Linked DNA regions of Homo sapiens: region 2 is linked to region 1. The links come from fine-mapping of genetic effects on gene expression. A gene starts in region 1. The other region holds a variant in brackets. All regions are shown on one strand. Distances are from middle to middle. Region 1 holds the start of BCAS4 (breast carcinoma amplified sequence 4). Region 2 overlaps BCAS4 (breast carcinoma amplified sequence 4).

Evidence for each region. PIP is the estimated chance that this variant, and not a neighbour inherited with it, causes the effect. A credible set is the group of variants that fine-mapping cannot tell apart.
Region 2: its variant is the best candidate, but not a certain one, in a credible set for the expression of BCAS4 in whole blood (TOPMed, PIP 0.85).

The regions. Positions count from the first base shown.
Region 1 is chr20:50,791,889-50,797,203 of GRCh38, reverse strand. It overlaps BCAS4 (breast carcinoma amplified sequence 4), which reads right to left and starts at 2,143. Exons shown (of 5, transcript NM_198799.4): 1 at 2,031-2,143. The coding sequence starts at 2,120. RefSeq lists a silencer at 1,591-2,410.
Region 2 is chr20:50,876,313-50,881,626 of GRCh38, reverse strand. It overlaps BCAS4 (breast carcinoma amplified sequence 4), which reads right to left. Exons shown (of 5, transcript NM_198799.4): 5 at 4,450-5,141. The coding sequence ends at 5,019. Among named protein-coding and RNA genes, the nearest start is that of ADNP-AS1, 52 kb to the left of the region's middle. RefSeq lists enhancers at 1,246-1,745, 1,746-2,247, 4,906-5,314. The variant C/T (reference allele first, on the strand shown) is at 2,838.

The sequences.
Region 1 (5,315 bases):
AGAAAAGCAAGTTGCAGGACAGTATTACAGCAGCAAGTGAGGTTTCATTTAAAACTAATATAGATGGGCCAGGCATGGTGGTACATGCCTATAATCCCAGCACTTTGGGAGGCTGAGGCCAAAGGATCTCTTGGGCCCAGGAATTCAAGACCCGCCTGGGCAACATAGTGAGATCTCGTCTCCACAAAATAACTTTGTTTTAAAAGTTAACCTGACATGGTGGTGCGCACCTGTGGTCCTGGCTATGCGGGAGGCTGAGGTGGGAGGATCACTTGAGCCCAGGAGGTTGAGGCTACATTGAGCTATGATTGTGTCACTGCACTCCAGCCTGGGTGACAAAGTGAAACCCTGTCAAAAAAAAAAAAATTAAAAACGTCTGTTCAAAAATTATTTTAAAAATATGTGGAGATGGCTGGGCGCTGTGGCTTACGCCTGTAATCCCAACACTTTGGGAGGCCGAGGAGGGTGGATCACGAGGTCAAGAGATAGAGATCATCCTGGCCAACATGGTGAAACCCCGTCTCTACTGAAAAATACAAAAATTAGCTGAGCATGGTGGCACACGCCTGTAGTCCCAGCTACTCGGGAGGCTGAGGCAGGAGAATTCCTTGAACCTGGGAGGCGGAGGTTGCAGTGAGCTGAGATCATGCCAATGCACTCCAGCCTGGTGACAGAGCAAGACTCCATCTCAAAAAAAAAAAAAAAAAAAAAAAAAATATATATATATATATATATATATATATATATATATGGAGAAAAAGAAAAAGAAAAAAGAGAAAACTCATATATATGTATATATATATATATGGAAAGATATTTTATGGTTTTTTTTTTTGAGAGGGAGTTTTGCTCTTGTTGCCCAGGCTGGAATGCAATGGCTGATCTCAGCTCACTGCAGCCTCCGCCTCCCAGGTTCAAGCGATCCTCCTGCCTCAGCCTCCCAAGTAGCTGGGATTACACACCCGGCTAATTTTTGTATTTTTAGTAGAGACGGGGTTTCACCATGTTGGTCAGGCTGGTCTCGAGCTCCTGACCTCAGGTGATCCACCCGTCTCGGCCTCCCAGTAGTGCTGGGATTACAAGCGTGAGCCACCAGGCCTGGCGAGATAGATTTTTTTTTAAATGTCTCACTCTGTCGCCCAGGCTGGAGTGCAGTGGCATGATCAAGCCTCACTGCAGCCTCACTCTTCCCCGTCCCCTATCCCCATCCCAAGCAATCCTCCTGCCTCAGCCTCCCAGAATGCTGGGACCACTGGCATGAGCCAATACTCTGCCTAGGCAGATACAGATATCTACATTTGTAAATGCATTTTAAATGTCCGGAATGATTTATACCAAACAGTTAATGCTGGTTTTCTAAGAAAACTAGAATTGGGGTGGGAGAGAAAAGAGAAAGGGGTGCATAGCCTTTATGTTAAATACTCCTGTACTGCTTTTGTGGTTTAAAAAGAGAATGGGTTGAATTTCTGACCGTAAATAACTCCTAGTGAACTCAGACAAATAACTTTTTCACAACAGCGTCGACAGATGCCTCCAGCCGGAAGGTAGAGGGTCTCGTTTTAGATCTGCTTTTCACTTGGTGCTTTTAAAATAGAAAGCGCAGACAGAGGCGTGGTGTTTTCGCTCCGAGCTGCAGCAGCGCAGCGCGGCCCGCACAGCCGCAGCCTGAGGCGCCGCTCGGCCCGGGCACCGCTCGGAGGTAGCCGGGGCAGCAGAGGTCCCGGGGTCCGCCTCTCCCAGGGCCGGCCTGGCAAAGGGCGGCGCCTGAGGACCCGGCGGATGCTGGGGGACCCGGGTGGGGAGGGAAAGCGAGCCTGGGCCTCCGGGGCCCGGTGTCGCCCGGAGGAGCGAGCAGGGACGACCCGCTGCACATCTCTGCGTGGCGCCCCGCAGCCACCCTTCAGGAAGGGGGGAATCCCCGGGCCCCCCACTCCGGGAGCGAGAGGATGCTCCGGGGAAGCCGAGGGTCCGGAGCCCGGACCCCTAACCGCGAGAACCCTCTCCTCCAACTCCACAGCCCCGTCCCCTACCTCGGCCCCAGGCTCGGGGGTCAGGAAGAGCGCGAGCTCGCGCGCCCCGCTGCGCATGGGCTCCGGCTGATCAGCGTCCACGAGCAGCATCAGGAGGGCGACGGGGTCCGGCTGGCGGAGGCTGCCTGGGAGCCCGTGGTTGCGCCCGGGCCTCGGAGCCCCGCCCCCGGTCCGCTGCATGCCCCGCGGACCGCCTGGCGGAGGCGGGGCAGGTGCGCTCCCGGCGGTCGCGGCTCGCAGCTCCAGGAGCGCCGGGCCGAGCGGGCAGCGCCACCCAGTGGCGAGCGGCGCGCGCTGCGCCCGCCCCCGCAGCACCTGGGCATCAGTGCTTTGCAAACTCGCTTGCAGATGGCAGTCACCTGGAGCTCTTTTAGAATTTCCCAAGCCTGGACCACACCGTCTCTGGGTTAAGACCTGGGCATCAGGATCTTTTGATGTTTGTTAGGTGGTTCCAACCAGATTGTTGACCCAAAGCTAAATTTGAGAACTATTGGGGCAAGCCACCCCTCCCCATCGGAATCCCGGTAGAGTACAGGCTCCCGGCCCCGGACCCGGCCGTAAAATAGAATCCCCGGGAAGCTTTTAAAAGCCCGGAAGCCAGGCCTCGCACCAGGCCGATTAAGTTGGAATCCTTCGGAGTGGGGCTTGGGCATCGGTAGTTTCTAAAACTCCCCGGGTGATTCTAACGGGCGTCCGGGTTAGAGAGGCGCTAGCTTAGAGGAAGCCCAAAGCCGCCCGCCCCCCACCCGTTCCCATCCTACTAAAGCATCTAGTTTGCATCGGGCGGAGGGTCCTGGAATTTAGGGAAGGCCGAGTGTGACGGTCCTCGTCTTCCTCTTCGGTGCGGATTTTAAAATAAACTTCACCAGGAAACTATTGAGCGCACTACATTTCACAACCGCACCCACTCCCTCCATGCCCTCGGAGGCCGGCCTAGATAGACCCTTTACAAGCCTTGGGGCTGAAGAGAGCGAGGTGCGCCTCATCTCCCACCCCAACAGTGCTAATGAGGAAAGTACTAAAAGGCAAATAGGTATAAGACAAGTCTGAAGTTTTGATTTTTCGTTTGATGACTTATTTTTATTTTTAATTAATTAATTTTTTTTTTTTGGAGACGGAGTCTCGCTCTGTCGCCCAGGCTGGAGTGCAGTGGTGCGATTTCGGCTCACTGTAACTTCCACATTCCGGGTTCAAGCAATTCTCCCCCTCCCTCAGCCTCCCGAGTAGCTGGGATTACAGGCGCCTGTCACCACGCCCGACTAATTCTAATTTTTGTATTTTTTAGTAGAGACGGGGTTTCGCCATGTTGGCCAGGCTGCTCTCGAACTCCTGACCTCAGGTGAGCCACCTGCCTCGGCCTCCCAAAGTGCTAGGATTACAGGCGTGGGCCAGCGCCCCCTGCCTGCTGACTTTTCTTTAAATGTTAAATCGCCTCACAAAAAAAAAAAAAAAAAAAGGCTGAGCTGCTTGGGCAAACATAAGGAGACTCCATCTCTCTAAAAGAAAAAAAAAAATTAAAATTGCAGGATGTGGTGGGGCACAACTGTAGTCCTAGCTACTGGAGAGGCAGATGCAGGAGGATTGTTTGAGGCCAGGAGTTCAAGGCTACCGCGAGTTATGATCGCACCACTGCACTCCAGCCTGTGTGACACAGTGAAACTCTGTCTTTTGTTGTTGTTGTTGTTTTTTAAAAAGGAGGGGCTGGTATCAAGGGTGCAAATAAATATATAGGACGTCCCACACCTTCCTCTCCATTAAATCTGAATTTATATTGTAGTTGGCCACCCTAGGTAGGGGCCTAAACAACACATGTTTGACCTGCCTTTTGTGTAGTCCATCACTGCACAATTCCCACTTCCAAATCTGTCCACTGCTAATTTCTCCCTATCCAAATATCCAGGCCTTCAGGCCAGTCATTTTCTGGAAAATTCTTGGCAAAGACTTGGGCCTCAAGTGCTTAAGGGTTTTATAGGAACTCACTGAGCCCACACTCGGCCATTCGTCATTGTCATGATTTCCCTGATGCTCTGAGCCCTCCTCGCCATCCCCTGGGAGCCGGTCTCAGACCCTTGCCCTTGCCTGCTGGCTAGGCATCTCCCACAAAGAGCCCAGGACTGGCCTCAGATCACCAAATTGACCTGAGCACAGCAAACTTCTCCTGGTGGATAAATCTCAGAAACATAAAGCTAAGGAAGAAAAGTCGTGTTGCAGAAGGCTCTGTAGGGCACTGTGCCATTAGCACAGTTTTTAAAACACGCAGAACCACACTGTATATTGTTTATGGACACCGACAGATGGAGCAAAAGTACAAAGCTGTGCATGGGAACGACGTACCCCATGTTCCAAAAGTGGTTACTTTAGGGCGGGGGAGAAGAAACTGGAGAGGGGTATGGGAGGGAGGGATTTCTTTTTCTTTTCTTTCTTTCTTTCTTTTTTTTGTTTTTTGACAGAGTCTTGCTTTGTTGCCCAGGCTGGAGTGCAGTGGCACAATCTCGGCTCACTGCAAGCTCTGCCTCCCGGGTTCAAGCGATTCTCCTACCTCAGCCTCCCCAGTAGCTGGGATTACAGGAACAAGCACCACCAAGCCTGGCTAATTTTTGTATTTTTAGTAGAGACAGGGTTTCAACATGTTGGCCAGGCCAGTCTCCAATTCCTGGTTTCAAGTGACCCACCAGTCTCGGCCTCCCAAAGTGCTGGGATTACAGGAGTGAGGCACTGCACCCAGCCCAAGAGGGATTTAATATATATATATTTTTTGAGACAGAGTCTCGCTCTGTCGCCCAGGCTGGAGTGCAGTGGCACGATCTCAGCTCACTGCAACCTCTACCTTCCAGGTTCAAGTGATCCTCCTGCCTCAGCCTCCTAAGTAGCTGGGATTACAAGCACATGCCACTACGCCTAATATTTTTTTTTTTTTTGAGACGGAGTCTCTGTAGCCCGGGCTGGTGTGCAGTGGCGCAATCTCGGCTCACTGCAACCTCCTTCTCCAGGGTTCAAGTGATTCTCCTGCCTCAGCCTCCCAAGTAGCTGGAATTACAGGTGCCCACCACCACGCCTGGCTAATTTTTGCATTTTTAGTAGAGACGGGGTTTCACCATGTTGGCCAGGCCGGTCTCGAACTCCCGACCTCAGGTGATCTGCCCGCCTCAGCCTCCCAAAGTGCTGGGATTACAGGCATGAGCCACCGCACCCAGCTACGCCTGACTAATTTTTGTGTTTTTAGGAGAGACGGGGTTTTGCCATGTTGGCCAGGCTGGTCTTGAACTCCTGACGTCAGGTGTTCGG
Region 2 (5,314 bases), 84 kb before region 1:
TGAAATGTGAAAAATCTCAGGGTATTTTTCCATACTTATTGGCATACATTAAGGTTGAGTATCTTTTCATGTTTTGCATTTTCTGTGAAACTCCTGTTCATAGCCTTTGCCTGTTTTGCTACTGTTTCCCTTTTTTGTAGGTGACATTTTTTAGGGAGATTATCCCTTTGTAGCATGAGATGCAAATATATTTTCCCAATTTGTCATCTATCTTTTGAATTTGCTTAGGATTTTGTTGTTTTGGGATTTTTTGGTTGAGTTTTCCGTTGGTTTTGCCATGCAGAAGTTTAAAAATTTTATATAATCAAATTGACCTCTTTTATGGCTTCTCGATTTTGTACACTTCGCCAATGTTTTTAACCTATTTCTTCAATAGATTCGTTTTATTTTACTTTCTAAGACAGGGTAACACTTTGTCACCCAGGCTGGAGTGCAGTGGCACAATCTCAGCTCACTGCAGCCTCAAGTTCCCTGGCTCGAGCAATCTTCCCACCTCCCACCAAGTAGCTGGGTCTATAGGCAAGCACCACCATGCCTGGCTAATTTTTCTATTTTTTACAGAGAAGGGGTTTTGCTATGTTGCCCATGCTGGTCTTGAACTCCTGAGCTCAAGCGATCCACCCACCTTGGCCTCCCAAAGTGGTAGGATTCAGGTGTGAGCCACTGCACCCGGCCAATAGATTCATTTTATACATTAAGCTCCTAATCGATTTACAATCCAGGTGTGCTGAGTGAGGTATGGAGCTCTATTTTTTCCAGAAGTTTACCCAATTGTCACAACATGAAAACATCTTAAAACAATTCAGGGCAAACCACACATTTCTGCCAATCAGATACAACCCCATGGGCTGCTACCTTGAAACCTCTTGCTTTGGTGAGCACGAAGTTCACATCCGCTGGGAAAGTGGGAAAGGGGGTTGACCGAAGAGCCTTGCTCTTGGGAAGAAATCTGCAGTGACCTTTCTACTGGTGTCCCTGTCCAACATCAGCCACAAAAGAAAAAGACTGGCAGGCCTCGGTGGCTCACGACTGTAATCCCAATACTTTGGGTGGCCAAGGTAGGAGGATCGCTTGAGCCCAGGAGGTTGAGACTAGCCTGGACAACATAGCAAAACCCCGTCTCTGTTTAAAAAAGAGAAAGATCAGATCACCCTTTCCTAGGCTGCAGTTACCCTTACCAAGGGGTTAGAGGCCATCAATAGTCAGCAACCGAGGACATCATTGACTGGACAATGGAAATGTCAGGCACTTTGCTTTAATGAGGACGCACATGAAGTCACCTGGCACAGGGACAGTGGAGCCGCTCAGAGGACTGAGGTTAGGGGTTGGTGATGGCAGGGCGCAGTGTCCCGGCCTTCCTTCTCCCCAGATGTTTCCAAGCGTCCCTTAAAGCTCATTGTTTGGCAGTGCAAATCCTAGGAACTTTGGAACGGCTACTTCCAGTTCACTTGTCACCTTTTCCCCATAGATTTCCTGTGCAACCTCACCCCTCCTAACAGGACAGGGAAACCCAGAGAGAGCAGCCTCCATTCTCCCATGACTTCTAACTCTGACACGTAAGGGCAGTCCCTGAGTCACTCGCTGTTCAGGCCCTCGGATGCCGCTGGTCAACTGAGAAACGCAGGACAATCAACCCTTTCCCCATCACAGCCCGGGCCCTGCAACAGCAGCCTCCCATTACTGAGAGCCCCTCGCCAGTGTGCCCAGCATGCACACAGCTCACCTCATGTCACCCTCACCACAACCCATCAGACCAGAGCCATCCTCATGTCTTACCGCAGGGGCAGCTGGACTCAGAGAGAGCAAGTGAAAAGCCCAGCTCACACAGCTAAGAGGCATGGGAGCGGACAGTGCTGCCAGGCAGGCTAACCTCAGGGCCATGCTCCTAGCGTGGGGCCTGTGGGTCCCTGCTTTAGGACACTCAACGTTGCTGCGGCTTAATCACATGGGATTTCCTTCCAACTCTCCCTGGCCCCTGTTTCAGGGGCTGGGAGGAGAAAGAAGCCTGGGAGTGCCCAACACTCAGCAGATACTCACCCTTCCGGAAATGAGTGTCCTCAACTGCTTGTCTAAAAAATTAACATTAGCTTTCTCCTTTTTCTTCTTTTTTGAGATAGGGTCTCGCTCTGTTGCCCAGGCTGGAGTGCAGTGGCACGATCTTGGCTTGCTGCAACCTCCACCTCCCAGATTCGAGCGATTCTCCTGCCTCAGCCTCCCGAGTAGGTGGGATTACAGGGGTGCACCACAGCACCTGGCTAATTTTTGTATTTTTAGTAGAGATGAGGTTTCACTATGTTGGCCAGGCTGGTCTCGAATTCCTGACCTCAAGTGATCTGCCCACCTTGGCCTCCCAAAGTGCTGGGATTACAGGCGTGAGCCACCTCACCCGGCCAACTTTCCATCCAACGTGTGCTCTCCCTGAGCACACTGGGGCATGCAGAGTGTCCAAGCTCCCTTCGATAAAAACAGTCCCAGCCAATACAACACAGCCATGGGAATGATCTACAGTGACACAGCAACAGTGACACCTCCCAAGGTAACATCAAGCCGGTGAGGCCAGAGACAAGAGATGACACACCGTAGGTACACATCCCGTGTGTCCTCTCTTTATACAGAGCACAGAAACAAGAAACTCCAGTCCATATGGTTAGATGTCAGTATGCTGTCAGCCTGGGGTGGGGGTGGGTATGGGCATGGACCAGAAGCGGGCATGAGGGGGCTGCTCAGTGCTGATAATGTTGGTTGCTCAGTCTGGTGAGGCTTAAATAGATACACTCAGTTTGTGAAAAATTTAGTGAACCACTTAGGCACCCCTTTCTGTAATATAAATTATACTT[C/T]AATAAAGGTTTGTGCCAACACTACATTTTGGGAGGCCGAAACAGGAGGGTCCCCTGAGCCCAGAAGTTCAAGACCAGCCTGAACAACATAGGGAGACCCTGTCTCTACAAAAAATAAAACAAATTTGAAAAGTTGCCAGGCATGGTGGTGCACATTTGTGGTCCCAGCTACTTGGGAGGCTGAGGCAGGAGGATCACTTGAGCCCAGGAGCTTGAGGTTTCAGGGAGCCATGATCACACCACTGCACTCCAGGCTGGGTGACAGGTGTCTCATTTAAAGAAAAAAAAAATTGTAAAAGTCACCTCAATAAAAAAATGCTGACCGGGCATGGTGGCTCACACCTGTAATCCCAGCACCTTGGGAGGCCAAAGTAGGAGGATCACCTGAGGTCAGGAGTTCGAGACCAGCCTGACCAACATGGCGAAACCCCGTCTCTACTAAAAATACAAAAATTAGCTGGGCGTGGTGGTGTGCTCCCGTAATCCCAGCTTCCTGGGAGGCTGAGGCAGGAAAATAGCTTGAACTCGGGAGGCGGAGGTTGCAGTGAGCTGAGATCATGCCACCGCACTACAGCCTGGGTGACAGAGTGAGACTCCATCTCGAAAAAAAAGAAAAGAGAATAAAAATGCTGACTTTTCCAGAAACAAGGGGTCTACCTATATCTCTGAATTCCAAAAATTGTCTAAACTATTTCCCTGCTTTTCTGTTTTTAATTTTTAAAAACATTTTTAGCCAAGATCTCACTTGGTTACCCAGGCTAGAGTGCAGTGGCACAATCATGGCTCACTGCAGCCTCAACCTCCCAGGCTCAAGCAATCCTCCCACCTCAGCCTCCCAAGTAGCTGGGACCACAGATGTGCACCAGCACGCCAGGCTAATTTTTGTATTTTTGGTAGAGATATGGTCTCATTATGTTGCCCAGGCTGGTCTCAAACTCCTGGGCGATCTGCCTGCCTCGGCCTCCCAAAGTGCTGGGATCACAGACATGAGCCGCTGCACCTGGCCTCTACTCTATCTTGCCAGATTCATTATTTTAGGCTTCCTTGAAAAACTTTTTTGGGGTGTGGGGGACAGGGTCTTGCTCTGTTGCACATGCTAGGGTGCAGTAGAACAATCACGGCTCACTGCAGTCTTGACCCTGTGCATAAGCGACCCTCCTGCCTCAGCCTCCCAAGATGCTGGGATTACAGGCATGAGTCACCTTGCCCAGGCAGATTATCTTGAAATTCTAATGCAGATTTACAGTTCAGTCCTGTATGTGCATAGGGGAATTATGTGTGTGTTCTTGGCTCTTCGAGGAATTCCAGAAATACCCATTGCAGGTTGAAGCCACAGTGAGAAATCCGGAGTGTTAGGACAATAGCAGGAAACTCATCTGCATGGGAAGAAATGTGGGTAAACAAGCCTTTGAAGACCCTGGGGGTCCTAATGACCTCTGCACTCTTGCTGGAAATCCAAAGGCCGGGACTACCCCTCCCTCAGCTGGAGCCTCATCAGCAGGTGCCCAGGATCAGGCCCTCGCAGGTGAGGCACAGGAGGAACCTTCTAGAAAACACTGCACAGGTGAAAAGGAAACTATCACTCCCCGTCATTCTCACACCAGACCAGGGCTGAGCTCTTGACACCTTTATTGGAAGGATCCTCAAGGCTGTGGGCACCGAGGTCTGGAGGCAACAGAAGCAGCATCCACCCACCCACCACAGTGGCAGAGCACACCCCGTGCAAAAACCCATCACAGAGAGAAGGACCATGGAGCCCCTGCAAAGCCATCATGGAGAGAAGGAAAGTCCCCACTGTCCATCAGCCCCGGCCAGGCCTGGTCCCTCAACCCCTGTAGAACCCCAAGCAGGCCGATGTGGGAGGCATCACCACACGTGGGTTCCAACTGCTTCTCCAAACCCTGTGGTCTCACATGAGGCAGGGAGGAAATTTGAAAATGGCAGCAGCCTGGGCACGGAGGCTCCTGCCCATAATCCCACCACTTTGGAAGGCCAAGGTGGGTGGATCACTTGAGCCCAGGAGTTTGAGATCAGTCTGGACAACATAGTGAGACCCCATCTCGACATTTTTTTAAATATTTTTAAAATATAAAATAAACAGCAATACAAAGAAAAAACCCCCAAGCTGCAGTGTGTACACAATGTCACTTTCCAGCGTTCCTGATGGGAAGACCACAAAGCTCACAAAGGCCGAGGGCAGGTGCGGGGGTGGTGCTGTGCTTCCCCGGCGTCCACAGGAAAATAGTCCTCCGTCCTATACAGTGTGGGCAGCTCGTACGTCACGGGCACCGGTGCAGGTGACTTCTGGAATGACAAGAAATGAAGCTCTATCAGCGATTTGGATCCACTTGTTCCATGACCCAGGAATTCCCGGTCTACAAGTTCATCCTGCAGGACTCACACATATGACCAAAGACTCTGAGCTCCTCTGACAGCACTGCCTGTGACAGCCAAAGCCGGCCACCCAAAGGGACCAA